Linked DNA regions of Homo sapiens: region 2 is linked to region 1. Evidence: fine-mapped expression QTL. A gene starts in region 1. The other region holds a variant in brackets. All regions are shown on one strand. Distances are between the middles of the regions.

What was found. PIP is the estimated chance that this variant, and not a neighbour inherited with it, causes the effect.
Region 2: its variant is the best candidate, but not a certain one, in a credible set for the expression of ARGLU1-DT in prefrontal cortex (BrainSeq, PIP 0.72).

What each region holds. Positions count from the first base shown.
Region 1 is chr13:106,616,337-106,619,256 of GRCh38, reverse strand. ARGLU1-DT (ARGLU1 divergent transcript) reads right to left here and starts at 1,447. Exons shown (of 4, transcript NR_051977.1): 1 at 1,224-1,447.
Region 2 is chr13:106,546,245-106,549,164 of GRCh38, reverse strand. The region is part of intron 3 of ARGLU1 (arginine and glutamate rich 1); the gene reads left to right. Among named protein-coding and RNA genes, the nearest start is that of EFNB2, 12 kb to the right of the region's middle. The variant A/G (reference allele first, on the strand shown) is at 1,407.

The sequences.
Region 1 (2,920 bases):
CGAGTCTGAACTCTCCCCTGAAGACAATGGGAAACCTCTGACAATTTTTAATCAGGCAACTGATATTATTATAAAACAGCCATGTCTTCATGCTATCTTACCATTCTAATTCCTAGCATAGCATCTATCCATTCATTCGCTTGTTTTAAATGCCTGTCTTCCGGCTAAAATGTAAGTTCTGTGAGAGCAGGAACTTTGACTGTATTGTTCATCACAGATGCCTAGAAAATAACCTAGGTGGGACACTGCAAACGTTCCATAAATATTTTTCGATGAATAAAGATTCATATTTTAGAAAGCTTCCTCTGGTAGCTTTGTAAGAGCTGTGGATAATGGACTGAGGTAGGGGGGCGGGGTGGAAAGAGAGAGCAGAATTAGACACCAAGGCAAAAAGTAGGGAACATGCACGAATTTAACGCATGTCCACTTCCAAACAGGTTGTGATATTGGTGCTGGGAACTGAAGTACAGAAGCCTGGATCCACAACGTACGAGCCATGGGGACTTCCATACAAGGCATGCACAGGTATCGTACAGATATAGGACTTGGGGGTCGAATCGGGAAGTTGGGGAGGTGATGCAAACAGGTGGGAAGTCCAAAGAGGACTGGTACAAACAGAAGGATAAACCAGTGGGTGGGAATCATGGAGATCCGAGGACAGGGCACAGCATCTGTAGTAGGAAGTAGATGCAACACTCCCCGCAGCCCCATCCCCCCAAAGAAAGGCAGACCCAAGAAGAAAAAGCCTGAGAATAGAAACCTTGGAAGAATAAATGTATAAAAGGGGGCAGACAGATTAAAAGGAGTGAAAAAGGGGCGGTTGTGGCTGCTGTGATGCCCAGGCAGACGCTGTCATCCTCTCCACAGCTGAGAGTGTTGGTGGGTTGGGGGGTGGTTGTCAGGGCTCCCCACTGGGTCCCTTCCTGGAAACGGCTCCCAGCTGAAGACAGCCACCCTGCCCAAGTTCATAGCACCATCCCAGGGGCAGCTGCATCCAATGACTGGTGCACAAAGGTGGGATGCAGAGGCCTGGCCCCTTGCCTCATGGTGATACAGCTCTGGGAGGCCCTCCCAGGTCAGACTCCATGCAAGATTGACCGATTCCTCTGCTGCAACTGCAACAAAGCTCAACATCTCCTTCTGCCCAGTGTTACCGCGTTTACTCCTTTATAGGTATAAGCACTAAGATCACTCCCCAAAAAACTTCTCATGGAAATTTTTACCTGCAAGTCTATTTCCCAGAACTCAACTCAATACAGTTGGTGCCAAGAGTGATCCAAGAAGATGGACTCTGAAGTGGAACTGCAGAGCTGGCTCATCCTCCTGCTGGCTGGCAGTGAAGCCCCGGCCCTGGCTTGCCGGAGAAGTGCAAGTGTCAGAACTTTCACTGGTGATGACCTGGGGTGGGAAAGAGGTGGGAGAGAATACCCTGGTAGATGGCAATCTCCCAGGCTTTTGGGAGTTAGAGAAATTACCAGTCCTGAGAACAATGGACTCTAATGGCTCTGGCTGAGTCACTGGAGGCATTAGAGAAAGACAAAGTGAGGCTCAGGGCTGTGAATCATCATTGAAAGGAAAGTGTGAAAGGGAGAAAGCCTCACTGGAGGCATCGGAAGAGACTCATCTCCTGTAGCAGGAGGACTGAAAAATCTAAGGATAAGGCCCAGGAATTAATTATAAGAATAGCAGCACTTCAAAAAAATTTGAATTCTTAGCTCTGGTTAGTCTGGTTATGGCTATGACAATGTCAGGGGCCTATTAGGGATGAGAGAGACAACAGAATTAATGCTCTCAAAACCTCAACTCTTGAGGTTGGGCACAGTGGCTCACTCCTGTAATCCCAGCACTTTGGAAGGCCCAGGCAGGCAGATCACCTGAGGTCAGGAGTTCGAGACCAGCCTGGCCAACATGTGAAACCTGGCCTCTACTAAAAATACAAAAAATTAGCTAAGCGTGGCAGTGTGTGGCTGTAGTTCCAGCTACTCAGGAGGCTGAGGCTGAGGAGAATCGCTTGAACCTGGGAGGTGGAGGTTGCAGTGAGCCAAGATCACACCACTGCACTCCTGCCTGGGTGACAGAGTGAGACTCTATCTCAAAACAAAACAAAACCTCAACACTCCATTCAGAGCCCTCCGGGCCTACAGAGGTGGCCCTGACCTCCCTGTGAGAGGCTGTGCTCTGCCCTTGCTTGAACATGGTATAGGAATCTCTGCATTGCAAGACAACACAGTGCTCCTCAGGACCCACCCCCACCTCCTGCCTTGACCAGACCCATCACTAGAGTCAAGTGAGACAGCATGTGGAGGGGAAATGCAGAGCCTGCTGAGCAAAGGAAGGAACCATGTGCCTAAAGGCGGCAGGCCAACGTGCAATGGCCAAAGCCAGAGACTCTTCATGGGACTGAATGAGGGGGATGAATCAAAGCAGGGGAAGCATGAAGTTGGAAAATGATGAGTTTATTTATATGGGCACAGTCTACTGTAATAGATGATTTGCCACCCTGGCAAGGACTCTGGGAGATGTTTTCATCACACTGCTAGGATGACTCCTGGAACTTTGGAGAAAATTACAGCCCACATTAAGTAAAGATGAAATGCCACAAGTGTGTGATAGATGATGGAAGAAGAAATAAAACAGATCTTAATCCTTGAGTCAGTTTATCTGACCCAGAATCCACTAATTCAAAGGGAGGTCAGGTTCTCAGGAGCACCCATGGCAAGGGAACACAGTTATGGTTCCAATGGTTCTTTGCCAAATGTGCCTGTGGTCACTTGTTTAAACAACTATACAGTGGAAAAGCAGAATATGCAAACATTTTGAGAAATGCTGGACACAGGGCCTGAGCTGACATTCACACCCAGAGAACTCGGGATTCCTTAGGGCCCTCTATTGGAGTAGGGTGCTTGTGGGCCAGGAAATA
Region 2 (2,920 bases), 70 kb after region 1:
ACTGTTGCTAAGAACTACCTTGATTAAATTTATGGACAGTTTAAGAAGGAGAATGCTTAGGAAGGTAATCTTTATAAAATCAGTAGATCCTCTGGGTAAAGACGGTAGGGCAGAGGCCGGGCACAGTGGCTCACGCCTGTAATCCCAGCACTTTGGGAGGCCAGGGCAGGCGGATCACAAGGTCAGAAGATCTAGACCATCCTGGCTAACAAGATGAAACTCCGTCTCTACTAAAATACTACAAAAAAAGGAGCCGGGCGTTGTGGCACGCACCTGTAGTCCCAGCTACTCGGGAGGCTGAGGCAGGAGAATCGCATGAACCCGGGAGGCGGAGGTTGCAGTGAGCCAAGATCGTGTCATTGCACTCCAGCCTGGGCAACAAGAGCAAGACTCTGTCTAAAAATAAATAAATAAATAAAATAGGGCAGAGATTACTGGGAGGGGTAAGTAGGCCTTTTAACTATAATGGAACATTTTTTTGTGTGTGTACTTCTTACCACCAGTCACTCTTTAGCTTGGGGTACAAAGTTGAAAGCCACCTTTGTGAGATTGAACAGGGTTATGGGCATAATGGCTAGGAGGGTCTGCCCCAGTGTATTGGTTCTGGTATTGTGGATGTTAGCTTTCTCCTTGGCCTCCAAGCTGTCCACTACGTAATCCTTGTGAGTGAGTTGCTTAGTATTACTCATCTGTATAAATACATATATGCATCCCCAACCCCCCATGCAAATACTGCTTTCTTGTGCATAAATGTGAAACAAGCAGGGAAAGGAGCAATGGTTGTATTCTCCGGCAAGTCAAGTCATCAGGAAAGAAAAAGTTACTACAGAGAGAGGGTAGGATTTAGGAAAATACCTAGCAAATAAGGTATAGGGTCATACCACACTTACAAGTGGTGGATGAACAGGAAACCAGCTTTTATCACTTGAGAGACTATATTAAAATGAGAGATGACGGTTGTTAGTGTTTGAATAGTCTTTTTTTTTGTCAAAGTGTAATTAAGATTTATGCCTAAAGCCATAGTAGAACAAAATACCAATATTTGTATATAGACAGTATATTCAACTAATTTTTAAATCATTGCATTAAATACTTCTAGTAGGCACTGTATGCCTAGCATTGGTGATTAACATTGTTGAGCCGTAGTCCCGGAGAAAATCAACTCTGCTGTACATACATACACAACACACTTTTGCCTTCTGTATTTGTAGACCTAAGTGAAGAAACTTGATTCTTTACCCAATCTAAAGTGCAGAATTAGTATTTTATCTGAAGGAAGTTGCTTTACTTTAAAAATCTTGTTTTTTTAATTAGGCAAAATGATCACATGGTTCAAATTTTGTTTTTTTAGGAAGAGAAACAGTGAAGTCCCTTTACCTTACCCCCAACCCAATCCCCAATTCCCA[A/G]CCCCGTCTCCAAAAGTGTACTCAGTTACGGGTTTTTAAAATCTTTTCAGAATGTCTGTAAAAGCATATTCAGGCAGATACAAATGCATAATATTTTAATTCTCCCTTTATTGCACAAAAGTAGCATGTACACAAGGAACTTTCTTTTTTTCATTTAACAGTGTAACTTGGAGATTTTTCCATTGCGGAACATAGGGGCCTCCTTTTTTCCTCTTACTTGTTTTTAATGGCTATACAATATTCTCCTTTATATATCTTCAGTAATTTATTTAGTGTACCCCATATTGGTGGATATTTGGGTTTTTTTCACATTCTTTTCTTTCTATAAACTGTGTTGTAATATGTAACCCTGTAAATATATCAGTTTCGCATGGGTGCAAAATTTGCACATTGCTGTACAAGTACATAATGTAAATTCCAGAAAATGTACTTGCTGGCATAAAGTATTACGAAGATGTAATTTTGATAGTGTGAGAGTGCTCTTTATATGATAGCATATGTGTGTTAGTCCATTTTTTGCTGCTCTAACAGGGTAATTTATAAAAATATTTGGCTCAGGGTTCTGGAAGCCGGGAAGCCTAAGAACATGGCACAGGCATCCCATGAGGTTTCCCCATGGTGGAAGGCATCACATGGCGAGCAAGCTAGACAGAGAGGGCCCTAGAGAGAGAGAAAAGTGGTGGCCAGACTCGTCTTTTTATCAGGAGCCCATTCCCATGGTAACCAACCCACATCCCACTCGGGTAATAACAGAATTAATCCATTCATGAGGATGAACCCCTCATGGCCTAATCACTGCTTAAATGCCCCACATCTTAATACTGTTAACAATGCCAGTTAATTCTAACAGCGACCTTTGGGGGACATACTGAAACCACAGCAGTGTGCTGTCACACTTTGAATTTCTGTCTTCTAGGGTAAAAAATGGTATATTTGTAATGTTCATTAGATTTCTCTTATGGATTAAGGTTGTGATGTTCTTTATGTACCCTCACTCTCCAGGGCTCTAGGATGCTTTCCTAGGGTTGAGTTAGAACCTTAGAAGAAAGTGAATCTGAGTATTTATATTGATAAAATGTTTCTTAGGCACACACACACATCCAAAGAACCCTTACTACATCTTGATTCAGTTGCACACACTAAGCTCTTACCCCAAATTTGTGATGATTTATTAAAACTGGATAAAGTGATTGGCATATGAATTCATTAATGATGACCGATAGCAGGCAGTTCTTTTTGTTGTAATATCAGTGAAAGCCTAAGGAAGAGAGTGGCTATTTGAAATAGATTCTGATGTACAGGTAGGATTTCCATAGAAGGAAAGAATGGCATGAGCAAAAGACGGGGGAACAAGATAGAAAGGAGAATTTAGAAGAGGAGTAGAAACAAAGCTGGAGCCAGGTTATAGAAAATCTTGTCTTAGAGAAACATTATACTTTAGGAAGTTAAGCTGTATGCCATGGACAGTGGATATCATTGGCAATTTGAGAACAAGAAAGAGTGAGCAGTGGTCA